Regions from separate parts of the Homo sapiens genome. Here region 1 is linked to region 2. The links come from fine-mapping of genetic effects on gene expression. Tissue or cell type: whole blood. Region 2 holds a variant in brackets; the other region holds the start of a gene. All regions are shown on one strand. Distances are between the middles of the regions.

Region 1 (8,100 bases), 24 kb before region 2:
CCGAGATTGTGCCACTGCACTCCAGCCTGGGCGACAGAGTGAGACCCTGTTTAAAAAAAAAAAAATGCTGAAAGAAATTTCCAATGGCTTCCATCTTACCACAAATCAAAGCCAATGTGTTTACCATTAGCTCATAGCCTCCCGTCTCTGGTCCTCTCCCCTCACTTTACCTCATACTAAACTCCAGCCACATGGACCTGCTTCCAGTTCCTCATTCATAGGAGGCTCTTTCGGTTCCTCAAGGACCTTGCACTCATGGTTTCTACCTGGATGCCCCTCCCACTCTTCAGTGGTTCTCTCCTTCTGACCCCTGAGTCTTGGCTCAAGCATCTTCCTCCCCTGATCTCAGTCACCGTCTCGTCAAACTGTTTATTTCCTTGTGCTCATCACATCTCTGATTAGTTTGCATCTTTGCTTGTCTGGTTCCTTGAGTGATGGGACCTTGTCTGTTTTCTCACCACAGTGTCCTAGTGCTTTGAGCAGAGCATGGCATATAGTTGGTGCTCAATAAATTTGTTTGTGGTGGCTCATGCCTGAAATCCTAGAATTTTGGGAGGCTGAGGTGGGCAGATCACTTGAGCTCAGGAGTTGGAGACCAGCCTGGGCAACATGGCAAGACCCTGTCTCTATAAAAAATACAAAAATTAGCTGGGCATGGTGGTGCATGCCTGTGGTCCCAGGTACTTGGCCTGAGGCGGGAGGATCATTTGAGCCCAGGAGATGGAGGCCAGTCTGGGCAACCCCATCTGAAAGAAAAGAAAACAAAATAGTAAATGTTCTAAACCAGTATATAAATTATCTGTAACTGCAGATTCTCCCAGGACTCTGGGAGGCTAAGCCTGGGTGATCACTTGAACCCAGCCATTCGGGGCTGCAGGGAGCTGTGCTCATGCCGCTGTGCTTTAGCCAGACTGAGATCTTGTCTCTTAATAAAAAATAAGAATAAAATGGGGCCGGGCGTGGTAGCTCACGCCTGCAATCCCAGCACTCTGTGAGGCTGAGGTGGGTGGATCACTTGAGTCCAGGATTCCAAGACCACCCTGGGCAATGTGGCAAATGTCTCTACAAAAAACACAAACAAAATTAGCCAGGTGGCGGCGCTTGCCTGTGATCCTGGCTACTCAGGAGGCTGAACTGGTAGAACCACTTGAGCCTGGGAGGTGGAGGTTGCAGTGAGGTGAGACTGAGCCGCTGCACTCCAGCGTGGGTGACAGAGTGAGACCCTGTCCCAAAATAAATAAAAATTTAAAAATTAAAAAAATGTGTTGTTGAATGTCTACAGAGGAATAGAGATGGTCATGACACACTCTATGTTTATTTACTTATTTATTTATTTTTAGAGACAGGGTCTTGCTCTGTCACCCAAGCTGGAGTGCAGCGGGTCACTGCAGCCTCAAATTCCTGGGCTCAAGCAATCCTCCCACCTCGGCCTCTCAAGGTGCTGGGATTCCAGCCATGAGCCACCGCGCCTGGCCAACACATTCTGATTAAGAAAGTAGACCTTAAACTGCGTGTAGAGTGTGGGTTTATCTTTGTCTCTCCTTGGAGGAGGGTTCCCATTGCTTCTGTAGACACTGGTTCAGATCCACAACCGGTTCTAACATGCATTTGGGCAGTGGGCCACCTGCTGGGAGGAACCTCCTTCCTCTCAGGGCCAGCCTCAACCGGGGACCCATTCCTTTCTCAGTCCATGCAAGGAAGCACCCTCTGTGTCCAGGCACTGGCCATTAAGCAGCAAAGAAGGCCAACAAAATGCTGCCTACGGCTCTTTGCTTCTGGTGGTTGGGGCTGGGGGGCAGAAATAATAAAGAAAAATGTGCAAAACCGAAGACATCAGACAGTGACGAGTGATTAGGGAGAAGGTGAGTGAGTGAGGGGAAGGGCCCTGCCTCCCAGAGATCACTGAGGACTGCTGAGCAGAGGCAAGGAGGAGGTGTTGGGGTTACTGGGGAGGACTGCTCCACAGAGGCTCAGCCAGGCAGGGGCCCCGGTGGGGGTGGGCCTGGCTTGTTGGGGAGACGAGCCAGGAGGTGAAGGTGGGGGTGGGGGTGGGCCTGGCCTGTTGGGGAGAGGAGCCAGGAGGTGAAGGTGGGGGCCGACTTCTTCCCAGGGTCCCTCTCACTGCCAGGCTGAGGATGTACTGTGGGGCCCAGGTGGGAGCTGAGATGGGGAAGGCCTTTCCAGAAGGAGGAGCTGGGAGAGAGGCCAGGTGGACGTGGAATCTCTAGGACTGGGGACCTTGAAGCAGCAGATAGAGCGGCGGCTCAGGGCAGTCTCCCTCCAGGTCTGAGTGCATGGAGGGACACGGCGTCCGAAGCCACCCTAAGCTGGGGTGGAATCTCACTGCACCCTTTCTGAGCGATGTGGCCTTGGGGGGGCCGATGGAGTTGCCTGTCCTGTAGGTGACTGCTGGCCCCCAGGCTTCCGTAGGGTTAAATGAGATGGTGTTGGCAACACGCCCCCCAAAACCTGGCCATAAACTGGTCCCAAAACTGGCCATAAACAAAATCTCTGCAGCACTGTGACATGTTCATGACGGCCATGACGCCCACGCTGGAAGGTCGTGGGTTTACCAGAATGAGGGCAAGGAACACCTGGCCCACCCAGGGCGGAAAACTGCTTAAAGGCATTCTTAAGCCACAAACAATAGCGTGAGCGATCTGTGCCTTAAGGACATGCTCCTGCTGCAGGTAACTAGCCAGACCCATCCCTTTATCTTGGCCCATCCCTTCGTTTCCCATAAGGGATACTTTTAGTTAGTCTAATATCTACAGAAACAATGCTTATCACTGGTTTGCCGTTAATAAATACGTGGGTAAGTCTCTGTTCGAGGCTGTCAGCTCTGAAGGCTGTGAGACCCCTGATTTCCCACTCCACACCTCTCTATCTCTGTGTGTGTGTGTCTTTAGTTCCTCTAGCGCTGCCGGGTTAGGGTCTCCCCGACCGAGCTGGTCTCTGCAAGGTGGTGTGTGGCTCCCACTTGGGAGGCCTCCAGTTACTGGCACTGTCATCACCATGCCCACTGAACAAAGTGGACCAAGCCCCAGAGGCAGCCAAAACCACACCTTTCTGCAGGGAGGGTAAACTGAGCCCGCGAGCTCAGGGCAAGCGCACCAGGCGCATATGCTGGCCTTCATCTGTCCTCAGCTCCTCCCTGCGGGCACAAGCGGGGGCAGCTGAATCTTCCACGCGAGAAGCCTAAGAGTAGGGATACGGGGGCGGGGAGCAGCAGGCCTGCTCTGTGTGTAAACAACGGGAAAGCAGGAATAACGCCAGGGCCCGCGGACACCAGCTGCCTCCGAAGTCCCGCTGCCCGGCGCCTGCATGGAGCAGCCTCCTGAGCGCAGTGTGGCGCGTCCTCCTGTGTAAAGAGGGTAGAGCCGCGCCGGGTCCCTCCCTCTGCAGCCGTGAAGCCCCCGCGGGGCCCTGCAGGTGGCTGGCGGCACCTGCACACGGTGGTTCTCTGTTCCTTTTTCCTCCTCAACCACTGAGGTTAAAAAAAGTGTTAAAAGCCACCCTTTTTGTTTTTTTGAGACGGAGTCTCGCTCTGTCGCCCAGGCTGGAGTGCAGTGGTGCGATCTCGGCTCACTCCGAGCTCCGCCTCCCGGGTTCACGCCGTTCTCCCGCCTCAGCCTCCCGCGTAGCTGGGACTACAGGCGCCCGCCACCGCGCCCGGCTAATTTTTCGTATTTTTAGTGGAGACGGGGTTTCACCGTGTTAGCCAGGATGGTCTCGATCTCCTGACCTCGCGATCCGCCCGCCTCGGCCTCCCGAAGCGCTGGGATGACAGGCGTGAGCCGCCGCGCCCGCCCATTTTTTTTAAACGTGTTGGGGTTTGGGTTTCAGCCACAGGCCTTCTGCGATGAGAGGAAACCCAGGACGCGCAGCCCCAGGTCAGGCCCGCGGAACAGCCGGGCGGACTCCGGGGCTCGCAGACTCGCGACCCGCGTGCCATGAACCTCCGCGCCGGAGGCGGCAGCAGCGAGCGCGGGGCTGGATCCAGCGTAGCGGGGCGGCCGGGCGGATCCAGCGCAGCCGGGAGACAGATGCGAGGCGGCGGTCAGGTGAGCGGCGCGGGGCCGGCGGGGTCGGGGCCGGCGGGGACGGGGCCGGCGGGGACGGGGCCGGCGGGGACGGGGTCGGCGGGGTCGGGGCTGGGAGGGACGGGGCCGGCGGGGACGGGGTCGGCGGGGACGGGGCTGGGAGGGACGGGGCCGGCGGGGACGGGGCCGGCGGGGACGGGGCCGGCGGGGTCGGGGCTGGGAGGGACGGGGCCGGCGGGGACGGGGTCGGCGGGGTCGGGGCTGGGAGGGACGGGGCCGGCGGGGACGGGGCCGGCGGGGACGGGGCCGGCGAGGTCGGGGCCGGCGGGGACGGGGCTGGGAGGGCGGCCCGCCCGGCGCAGGGGCCTCGAGACCTCGGCCGCCCCACCCCGGGGACGCCGCCGCTGCTCCGGCGTCCACACCAGCTGCGTGCGGAGCACCCGGGCGGCTCAGGGGACCCGCGTGGCCGTGCCCCCGCCCTGGGCTGCTCCGAGCCTCAGTTTCCCCCTCGGTGGAACGGGTGGGTGGGAGAGACCTGCCCCCGAGGAGCCCGGGAGACCGGGCGAGCTCCCGCGGGTGTGGTGGGTGGGGAGGCACAGTGCTGGGGTGGCTTCTCCCTGCAGCAGGTGCCGAACCCACGGCCAGGCTTCCGTGGCCAGCAGCCCTAGAGGAATGGCCATCCTGTCCCTGCGAGCCCCTGGGCCCTGGCAGGCGATGCAGGTATGGGCAGACAGGACGCTGTTGACTCCGCACACCGGGGTGACTTCTCAGGTTCTCGGGGTGGCAGCTGCAGTGATGACACCGCTTCCTGGTGGTCACGCCGCGGGCAGGACGCGGGAGGCCAGGTCCGTGCATCCCGCGTGTCCTGAGCTTCGGCCCAGGGTCCCTCCGTGCCCCGGAACCCCGCCGGCTTTCTTCGGCTTCCTTTCATTGCTAAGTTGTGGGGTCCTCCCCGATGAGAGCAGTGGGCTCTAGAGGAGGGGCAGGGGGTGGCCAGACCTCTTGCTTTCACTCTTCCACTTCCTGCCCGCTCCTTTCTGAGGCCAAGTCCCACATCTGGGTGCAGAACTGGTGGGGTGAGCCTGGTGAGAGGGGCAGGCTGGCGTTCTGCTCAGAGTCGGCCACTGTGGCCGGCATCCCCAGGTCTGTGTGAGCAGAAGCTAAGGCTGCGAGGCCAGCGGCCTCCCCTCATTCATCCCCTGCCCGTGCGCCAGGCCTGGGGCTGGCACTGACTGTCAGTAAATAGGCAAATAAAAGATGCCTTTTTTCACAGCCCGGAGGAGAGCTGGTAGCCTAGAGTACAGCTGCTGGGCAGAACGGAGGTGTCCCTGCCAGCGTGCCTTCCTTGACGCTCCTCTGGCCATGTTTTAAACACCAGGAGGTTTCCAGCGGCTTCCCCAGGCGTAGCTCCTGCACCTTTTTCCTGGGCTGGTCACCATATGTGATGACAGTGCCAGTCTGTTCTGAGCAGCTCTGGGCTCCTGGCTTCACTGACATCATAAACAAGTCCTTAGCCCTTCCATCCACCCCAGAAAGTAGGTGTTCCCCCTGATTTATAGGCAAGACAATGGAGAACCAGAGTCTAAATCAGGGCTGATTTTTTTTTTTTTTTTGAGATGGAGTTTTGCTGTGTTGCCTAGGCTGGAGTGCAGTGGCACAATCTCGGCTCACTGCAACCTCCACCTCCCGTGTTCAAGTGATTCTCCTGCCTCAGCTTCCCAAGTAGCTGGATTACAGGCATGCACCACCATGCCCAGCTAATTTGTTTGTGTTTTTAGTACAGACGGGGTTTCACCATGTTGGTCAGGCTGGTTTGAACTCTTGACCTCAAATGATCCACCCGCCTCAGCCTCCCAAAGTGAGCCACCACACACCGGCCATGATTCTTAAAAATAACAGTAATAGGCCAGGCATGGTAGCTCACACCTATAATCCCAGCAATTTGGGAGGCAGAGGCAGGAGGGTTGCTTGAAGCCAGGAGTTTGAGACCAGCCTGGGCATCAGAGTGAGACTCCGTCTCTACAAAAAGTTAAAAAAAATTAGCTGAGTGTGGTGGCACACACTGGAGTTCCAGCTACTTGGGAGGCTAATATGGGAGGACCCCTTCAGCCCAGGAGTTTGAGGCTGCAGTGAGCTGTGATCGCACCACTGCACTCCAGCTCGGGTGACAGAGCAACACCCTGTCTCAAAAAAAAGTAATAATGATAAATTATAATCAATATTTATTGGGTGCTTACTATGTGCCGGCCAGTGTTCTCTGAACTTAGTATTAACTACTTTAATCTTGACAATAACCCTGTATGGTACTATTGTAATCCCCATTTGAGACATGGGAGAATGGAGGCAGAGAAACGTTTATCCACTTACCCAAGGTCACACAGCTAGGAGCTAGCAGAGTTGGGATTCAAGCTGGACGTGTCTGTCTTGTTACCATGAAACTATTGGGATCATCAGTCAGAATCTTTTCTTTTTTTTTTTTCTGAGATGGAGTCTCACTCTGTCACCCAAGCTGGAGTGCAGTGGCTCAATCTCGGCTCACCTCCTGGGTTCAAGCGATTCTCCTGCCTCAGCCTCCCAAGTAGCTGGGATTACAGATGCCCACCACCACGCCCGGCTAATTTTTGTATTTTTGGTAGAGACGGGGTTTCACCAGGTTGGCCAGGCTGGTCTCGAACTGCTCACCTCAGGTGATCAGCCCACTTCTGCTTCCCAAAGTGCTGGGATTACAGGCGTGAGCCACCGAGCTGGGTCTTTCAGTCAGAATCTACTTTGGCCGCAAGAGACAAAAACCTCCCCTATAACACTGGTGGGAATATCGTATTTCTCTCACTTGAATGAAGTCTGGCTGTGAGCAGCTTAGGGCTCAGGTGCAGTCCCCTGCAATCACGTCACTCTCCCCAGTGTGGCTATTCCAGCTGCAGCCTTTACATCTGCATTCCAGGCAGCAGGAGGCAGGGATGGCTGAAGAGGGGCAGCCCCTACCTTTAAGGACAATTCTCAGAAGTCTTTTCTTTTTTCTCATATGTATGTATACACACACACACATATATATGTATATACACACACATACATATTTATGTAAAAAAGATTTTTTTTTTTTTTGATATGGAGTCTCGCTCTGTTGCCCAGGCTGGAGTGCAGTGGTGCGTTCTCGGCTCACTGCAAGCTCCGCTTCCTGGGTTCACGCTATTCTGCTGCCTCAGCCTCCCGAGTAGCTGGGGCTACAGGCGCCTGCCACCACACCTGGCTAATTTTTTGTATTTCTAGTAGAGACAGGGTTTCAATGTGTTAGCCAGGATGGTTTCGATCTCCTGACCTGGTGATCCGCCCGCCTCGGCCTCCCAATGTGCTGGGATTACAGGCGTGAGCCACGGCGCCCAGCCCATATTTGTATAAAATTTAATAGAGATAGGGCCTCATTGCATTGGGCCTGGCCGGATGCCGTCCTCCTGCCTTGGCCTTCCAGAGTGCTGGGATTATAGGTGTGAGCTACCACGCCCGGCCCATTACTGTTGTTTTCAGATAGCCCTGATTTAGTCTCTGGTTCTCCCTTTTCTTGCCTATAAATCAGGGAGAACACGTACTTCCTGGGGTGGATGGAAGGGCTAAGCACTTGGGTATGTCAGTGAAGCCAGGAGCCCAGAGCTGCTCAGATCTGCCTGATCTTCTCAAGCCGAGGGGGTCAGAACAGTCACTTTACCAGGTCTAGCTGCTGGGGAGGCTGGGAAATTATGTGACAAACAAAAATGAGGCTCCTCATTCAGGAAGAAGGAGGAGTGATGTTGGGATGGCCTGATTTCTCCTGTGTCCTGGGTGCTCCCTGGGAGACTGGGGAGGTGCTGGCATCGGGTGGCCGCCTCTGACTCTGTGACCCACCCACAGTCATCAGGTAATAAGAGAAGGAGGTGGGACTGGGGCCCACTCACGTTCCCTGTGTCTTCCCCGTGCCTCCCTGTTGGGGTCCACGGGCAGCCTGTCCATGGGTGCTTTGTCCTTTCAGGCTGGCGTGCAGGTGCCCAACCCACACTCCTGCCCCACAGGCACAACAGGCAGGACA
Region 2 (8,100 bases):
TTTTTCTTTTCCTTTTTTTTTTTTTTTTGAGATGGAGTCTCGTTCTGTTGCCCAGGCTGGAGTGCAGTGGTGTGATCTCGGCTCACTGCAAGTTCTGCCTCCCAGGTTCATGCCATTCTTCTGCCTCAGCCTCTGAGTAGCTGGGACTACAGGCGCCTGCCACCATGCCCGGCTAATTTTTTTTGTATTTTTTAGTAGAGACGTGTTTCACCTCGTTAGCCAGGACGGTCTTGATCTCCTGACCTCATGATCTGCCTGCCTTGACCTCCCAAAGTGCTGGGACTACAGGTGTGAGCCACCGTGCCTGGCCATTTTTTTGTATATTTTTAGTAGAGATGGGGTTTCACCATGTTAGCCAGGATGGTCTTGATCTCCTGACCTTGTGATCCTCCTGCCTCAGCCTCCCAAAGTGCTGGTATTACAGGCGTGAGCCACCGTGCCCGGCCTCAATTTTTCTTTTTTAAAAAACGTCTTCTGCTGGGCATGGTGGTTCACACTTTTAATCCCTGCACTTTTGGAGGTCCAGGCTAGAGGATCATTTGAGCCCGGGAGTTCCAGACCAGCCTGGGCAACACACAGACTCCTTCTCTACCAAAATAATTAGCTGGTGGTGGTGGCATGTGCCTGTAGTCCCAACACTCCAGAGGCTGAGGTATGAGGATTGCTTGAACTTTGGAGGTCGAGGCTACAGTGAACCAAGATTGTGCCACTGCACTCCAGCTTCGATGATGGAGCGAGACCGTCTCAAAGAAAAAAAGTTTTCCTGGCGATTCTTACACATATATGAGCTTTTAAAAGCATATATTTAAATAACATTTTAATGACAAAATTTGATGCTCTCAAGTATCAAAATGGAAATACCAACAGCAAGGTTTCCAGGGATGTCCAACACCACAGAGCAGGGAGGCCTGGCTGGGCCTCCACTGTTGAGGTCATCATGGTGCTTCCGCTTTATTCTGATTAACTTTTGGTTACACACATTGAAAAATGACCTAAGAGAGTTGTTTTGAGTGGCGCTTTTTCTCATTGTACAGCTCCTGCTAGCAGTTTACTGCAACACTGATTTCTCTGGAACCTCTCAGTTTCCAGTCATCATTAGGGCTGTTACTAGCAAGGACCTACAAGCCAGCCTCAAAATGTGAGAGGGCTGCCGACAGTCTTCCTGTGGTTAGCTGCCACAGTGCCCAGGGACCATCTTCCCTCTCCTCCTCCCCCACTGCCAGCTCCTGTTCCAGCCGCATCAGTTCCTCATTTGAGAGATCTTCTTCATGGGACTGCAGCAACTGGTCCACAGCAGCCTCAGCAACCTCTTCAAAGGCCACATTTCTGGCAAGGGTCACAATGTTTTTTTGAAGCTGTGCAATGTTATCTGCCTGGGAAAAACGCTGGGCCTGAACACACTCAGGCCAAATCTTCTTCCACATGCTGTTCATTAGTGCTGGTTTGAGCTCCTCCCATGCGATGGCCATGTCCACAGCATCCATGATGCTGTAGTTTCTCCAAAATTCCCTGATCATAGCTGTGTCCTCACCATCCGCTGCTTCTAGGATGTGCTGAAAAGTCCTTCTCAGATAATGAGCTTTCAAGGTCGAGATTACACCTTGACACGTGGTCCGGATTGAGTCAGCTGTACTGTCATGAAGGTATTATACTCTTGTACTTCTTTTTTTTCTTTTTTTTTTTTGAGACGGAGTTTCACTCCTGTTGTCCAGGATGGAGTGCAATGGCGCGATCTCGGCTCACCACAACCTCCGCCTCCCAGGTTCAAGCAATTCTCCTGCTTTAGCCTCCCGAGTAGCTGGGATTACAGGCCTGCACCACCACGCCCGGCTAAATTTGTATTTTTAATAGAGACGGGGTTTCTCCATGTTGAGGCTGGTCTCGAACTCCTGACCTCAGGTGATCCGCCCGTCTCGGCCTCCCAAAGTGCTGGGATTACAGGCGTGAGCCACCGCGCCTGGCCTGAAGGTATTCTACTCTTAGTTATCAGAAAGGTCGCTCAAATTTACAGAGTGGCATGACGCACTGTCTAGTATGAGCAGTGCTTTGTTGGTGAGATTATTTTGGGCACTGTATTTTTCAACGGCAAAAAAAGTAAGTGAACCATTCATGAAAGATGCTCCTGGTCACCCAAGCCTTTCTGTTGGAGCGCCAAATCACGGGCAAACTGGGCTTCAAGAACCCTTCAGAGCCTTGCGGGTTTCTGAGCGGTACACCAGTAAGGGCTTCAACTTAAAGTCCCCAGCTGCACTGCCACCAAGCAGCAGCATCAAGCGATCTTTGGATGACTTAAACCCTGGCTCAGCATTCTCTTCCTCGGAAATAAACGTTCCTTTGGGCATTCTCTTCCAATCAAGTCTCGTCTCATCTACGTTAAAGACACCTGGGGGGTGTACTCACCTTCTTCGATGATGCTTTTCAGCATTTCTGTGTACATGTCCTTGTTGCTGGGAGCTGCGCTGTTCATCTTGAAGTGGGGCAAACAGTGGCACTCCTTGAATCTCACAAGCCACCCTTGACTTGCATGAAACCTCTCCGTTTGAGAACCTTCGCCATGTTCACGCTGTAAGTCATCAAACTCAGCCTTCTCCTGAACGATGGCGGCGCTCAAGGTCGCATTTGGCTGGCTCTGGTCTTCCAGCCACAAGCTCAGCAGCTGCTCCATGCTCTCCATCACTGCACTTCGATGGCGAGTCAACCGAGAGGCTCTCAGAGGAGTAGCTATTTGTGAACTCGCTTTGATTTTTTCTTTACTATCTCGAATGGTCGCCACTGTAGAGATAGCAAGATCTAAGGCCTTTGCGATCTGACTGAGCTTCTCACCCGCTTCAAATCGTCGTAACACTTCCAATTTGAGGTCAAGGGTAATCGCTTTCCGTTCCCTTTTGGCACTAGGGATGACAGTTGCATCTGTGGGCCTTTCCCCAGGCATTTCTGCCTCCAAAATGTCAGAAAATCACAGCGGTCTCAAGCGCAAGAACGCTGTGGTTCCTCTACGTCCCCTTGCAGAACTCGGTCAACAGAAAACGAGGCTGCGAAGAGGCTCAGGCTGATGTCCTGGAGACGTGGACGGGTCCCCATGGGCAGGCCCAGCCCCACTGCCTAGCCCAGCTGCTGCTTCACTGTCCACTCCGAGGAGGCCGCGCGGGTCTCCCGGTACCGCTCGAAGTCCGCGTGTTGGGGCCGTGCGGCCGCAGGCACATACAAGCGGCCTGGGTCCTGGGGCTCCAGAGAACAACCGACCAAGCAGACAAACGGAACTCCGTGAGGGGGACACTGCGGCAGAAACGTCCAGGGGCGGTTTTCCAGTGCAGCGGAGGGCGGACCGGGCGGGTGTTGTTTCGGGAGCTGCTTTCCATGGAGGACCCCAGAAATAAGTGTTGATGCCGATGCCCGATTTAAGATAAGTCTAAAGGCGCTGGCTATCCCCTTAGGGCCCAGCTGTCTGGGCAGGGCGAGGCTGCGCTGGCGATCAAACCCTCGAACGGTCAGGCGACGGCGTGGACACCCAAGACGGGGCCCCAGCCGGCGCCGCGCCCCTGCCGCGCCTGCGCGAGTCCTCCCTGCGCTCGCGGGGCCCTAGGACCGCTCTCCCATTGCGCATGCGCGCGCCCGGGCGGCGCGGGATCTGGGTCTGGGGATGTGGTACCGGCTGCTGGCGGCGGCCGGCAGTAGAGCGGTGGCCAGGCCGCTGGCCTTGCTGTGGCGATGTGGTGGCCCAGGAGGCGGCAGGACGGCCAAGACCAGCGCGAGGGCCCTGGGCAAGGCCCGACAGGTGAGCGGGGAGGCGCTCTCCGCCGGTGCCGGGCGGCTGGTCTGCTCTGGACGCCGCGTGACGCCATTCGCCTGCGCCGGCCGCGGGGGAGCGCGGGAGGGCGGCGGCCCTGACCTGGTCCGCGCAGTGAGGCCGACAGCACCTGGCCAGAGCTTCCCGCCCCCCCGCCTCCTCCGTCTCCAAACTCCTGCTCTTCTCCTCGCTACCTCTTCCACCCACTTCTTGCGGAATTCCCGCTGTTTACTGGATGCCCGGTCCCCTCGGACATCGGAACCGGGACCTCCAGCCTCCTTGCTCGGCTTTGTAAAGCGCCGGGCGTTGAGCGATTTGCGCTTGAGTCCCACCTCCTCGCGAACCAGCTTTGTGGCCCCGCGTGCCAGCCCGTGTCCTCCTGGGCTCGGCGGCGTTCGGCTTTATCCACCTCGCAGTTACTCAGTGAACCAGACACGATAAGAGGCGTGAAAGGGTTTTGCAAACTGTTCTTTATACAGCGACCAGTCACTGTCGTTAACAGCTAATGCTGAGAGCTAAGGGCTTTACGCGGATTATCTAAGTCTTATACCCGCCCTATAGGTAGATATCGCTATAACCCTATTGTTATTTATTATATTATTTTTAAAAATTTGGGAGCGGGGCCGGAGTCTCGCTGTGTTGTCTAGGCTGATCTCGAACTCATGGGCACAAGCGATTCTCCTTTCTCAACCTCTGGAGTAGCTGGGACTACAGGCTTGAGCCACCGTGCCCTGCTCATAACCCTGTTTTATAGGGTTAGGGTCTAAGACCGGAATATTCTG[C/T]ATTTTAAGATTGCTTTATTTTTGTATTGATACATCCCAGTGAGCAGCAGTAACGTTGAATTGTTTTTCTAATGCAGAGTTTTTGAATTTTGATCCCAGAAAGCTGTCATGGTTTTCAGACAGCAGTAAAATAAGAAGAAGGATCCCATGAGTATTTCTGTCCTGTCTTCAGGAATGAACTCCCCCCCCCCCCCGCCATCTCCATTCATTTGGGAAAGTGTATGATGGTTTAGTTGCTAGCAATATGAGTGAAAGCAGTCTTTCAGCTTTGGCCATGTGGCATCAGCATTGCAGAGGTCCTCCTGGTTGCTAACACATATTGAAAGTCAGCGATATGCAATATCGGTGTGTACAGCCTAATATAGCCCAGGAGAGTTTTGAATCATTGAACTGCTATAGACCCCTTTATGAAGGGAGGACGGACGTTGAATGATCTTTGAGTTCCTTCCCGGACTGGATCATTCATCTGCTTCTCATTTATTAGAGATAGATCTGTTAATCATTTACCAGGGAATATCTTGGTGAACACGACAGGCAAGGGCTCTGCCCCACTGGCTTGCTCTCTTTTGAGAGCTTTATGACTTGTGGACTGAGGGTGACATGCAGAGGTTGGAGAGGTGGCAGCAATTTGCATTTTTTTTTTTTTTTTGAGACGGAGTTTCCCTCTTGCCCATGCTGGAGTGCAATGGCGCAATCTTGGCTCACTGCAACCTCCGGCTCCCAGGTTCAAAGCGATTCTCCTGCCTCAGCCTCCCGAGAAGCTGGGATTACAGGCGCATACCACCATTCCCGGCTAATTTTGTATTTTTAGTAGAGACGGCTGGGCACGATGGCTCACGCCTGTAATCCCAGCACTTTGGGAGGCTGAGGCGGGCAGATCACCTAAGGTGGGGAGTTCGAGACCAGCCTGACTGATGTGGAGAAACCCCGTCTCTACTAAAATACAAAATTAGCCCGGTGTGGTGGCACGCACCTGTAATCCCAGCTACTTGGGAGGCTGAGGCAGGAGAATCGCTTAGAACCTGGGAGGCGGAGGTGGCAGTGAGCCAAGGTCGCACCATTGCACTCCAGCCTGGGAGTGAGACTCTGTCTCAAAAAAAAAAAAAAAGAAACAAAACAAAAAACACCCTAACAGCTCTCCTCATGGAAGCTTATGCTGTGGAGGCTTCCATGCAGTCATCTTTCATTCATTGAGCTACCTACTCTGTCCTTGTTCTCGTAGAGTTTACGTGCTGTGCAAGGAGGAACCAGACAATGGATAAGCAAGTATTAGGCATGTTAGGAAAAGGAAGCAGAATAAAGGAAATAGAAAATGAAGAAAGGGAATGGAGGAGGGATAAACCCTGTTATTTGTTGTGTCCCCTGCAGGAAGTGAGGGATTGAGATGAGCTTGCTAGGAAGATGGAATAGAAAATGCACTGCCCTAGGGTGGGTCCAGCCTTGAGTTCTGTGTGATCAGTATGAGGAAGAGGTTAGTGATAGACAGGTCAAGGAGGGGCAGGGCCTCATAGGCCTGCTGACGTTGCACCTGTGTGCTGTGTGTGTCTGTGGGACCCGGAATAAGGGTCAACTCATTTATGGCCTGACTGGAAAGAGGACAGCAGCACTTGGCCCTGTTTAAGGGAGTTTGTGTTTTGCCTACCTTCACATCTTGGCTTTACATATACAAAAACTAATTTAGCAAGGTTATTTACTGTGAGCTGTGAACTGACTTGCAGAAAACTCCAAGAAGGAATGGTAAACTCCTATCTTAGTGTTTACATTTACTGTGAGAACTGCATCAGGCTTAACCAGATTGTCTCCTAACCAAATCACAAAAGGACTAAATTGCGAATTAAAGCAAAGGAATTGGATGTTTTATCAAGTTTTGGAAGCCTGAAGAGTCATACTTTGTACCTTCAGGGCTGTAGGCTACCTGGTATCTACCCAGCCACCAGTACCAGTGCCACACTGTCTTTGAGGTGGTCCTGGGGTAGTCATGGAAAAGCTCTGGAAGATTGGGGCATCAGAATTCTCATTGCACACTTTCAGCTACCAGCTGTCTTCAGGCACTCACATTACCTCTCAGGTTCTACTTTCTCAGATGGGCAATGGGGATCAAGTGAGGTAAGAGGCACCTGGCACCCTACAACGTGCAGTATGGCCACCTTCTGTTGTTTGTGTAGGTCTCCTGTTGACCCACACCTTGGGTTCCAAACCCCCATCGGGGAAACATTCATGGGATCCTTCGAGAGTCATTGCTAGCTCTGTGTCAGGTACTGTGTGCCATTGGTGCTGGGATGGCTGCTGCAGATCGATTTCGTTCACGATGTGGAATCGTTTGTTAGCCCCACAGCCTTTACTGTCAGCATTCTCTTTCTGAGCTGCTTTTTTTTTTTTTTATGATTTTAATAATTTTTTCATAGTATGTCTTACTTTTTAGTCTACTGTGGTCTTTTATAGGGATATTTGAATAATGTAGTTAATTAGAAAGTTACTAATTGGGGAATGATTTTACTTTGGGGTAGTAGCCTACAGAGTCAGCCTCCCCCTGAATGTTGACACAGCTGAAATAACATAGGTGTTGTCAACTGTGGGTCTTGTTTCATTATAATAAAATATTGGGGGCTCACACCTGTCATCCCAGCACTTTGGGAGGCTGAGACAGGTGGATCACCTGAGGTCAGGAGTTCAAGACCAGCCTGACCAATATGGTGAAACTCTGTCTCTAATAAAAATACAAAAATTAGCCAGTGTGGTGGTGTGCACCTGTAATCCCAGCTACTTGGGAGGCTGAGATAGGGAGAATTGCTTGAACCCAGGAGGCGGAGGTTGCAGTGAGCTGAGATGGCGCCACTGTACTCCGGCCTGGGTGACAGAGCAAGACTCTGTCTCAAAAAAATAAAATAAAATATTGGGGACAATATAAATTCACTGGTTATGTTGGGATTTTGTTGGATACAGTTAGTACTGGGTTATTGAGTGCTTAGATTTTGTTTTTTAATATTTGTGTATGTGTGTGGTTTTTTTTTTTTTTTTTTTTTTTGAGAGAGTCTTACTGTCGCTAGGCTGGAGTGCAGTGGCACGATCTTGGCTCAATACAACTTTCGCCTCCCAGGTTCAAGCAATTCTCCTGACTCAGCCTCCCGAGTAATTGGGATTACAGGCGCCCACCTCCATGCCCGGCTAATTTTTGTATTTTTAGTACAGACGGGGTTTCACCATGTTAGCCAGGCTGGTCTCGAACTCCTGACCTCAAGTGATCCTCCCGCCTCGGCCTCCCAAAGTGCTGAGATTACAGGCATGAGCCACAGCACCTGGCCGACGTTTTCCTCCTTGAAGACTGAAGAAAATACAGAGCTTCTGGAAAAATTATTTGTTTTCTTGGCCTGACAAAAACTTTTACCTCTTGCTGGATGCTGTATTACCTGTCTGTTGTCCCTGCTGTGAATAGCCACTGCACTCCAATGAGACCCCATCTTGAAAAAAAAAAAAAAAGGCTGGGCTCATGCCTGTCATCCCAGCACTTCGGGAGGCCAGAACGGGCAGATC

Evidence for each region. PIP is the estimated chance that this variant, and not a neighbour inherited with it, causes the effect.
Region 1: DEF8 starts here. The variant in region 2 is fine-mapped to the expression of DEF8 in whole blood (TOPMed, PIP above 0.99).

What each region holds. Positions count from the first base shown.
Region 1 is chr16:89,944,751-89,952,850 of GRCh38, forward strand. It overlaps DEF8 (differentially expressed in FDCP 8 homolog), which reads left to right and starts at 4,005. Exons shown (of 13, transcript NM_001242818.2): 1 at 4,005-4,064; 2 at 4,667-4,763. RefSeq lists enhancers at 74-123, 3,015-3,354 and a silencer at 4,035-4,134.
Region 2 is chr16:89,968,991-89,977,090 of GRCh38, forward strand. It overlaps the pseudogene CENPBD1P and the pseudogene AFG3L1P. Among named protein-coding and RNA genes, the nearest start is that of SNORA119, 20 kb to the left of the region's middle. RefSeq lists enhancers at 3,268-3,327, 3,638-4,621 and a silencer at 3,468-3,947. The variant C/T (reference allele first, on the strand shown) is at 4,570.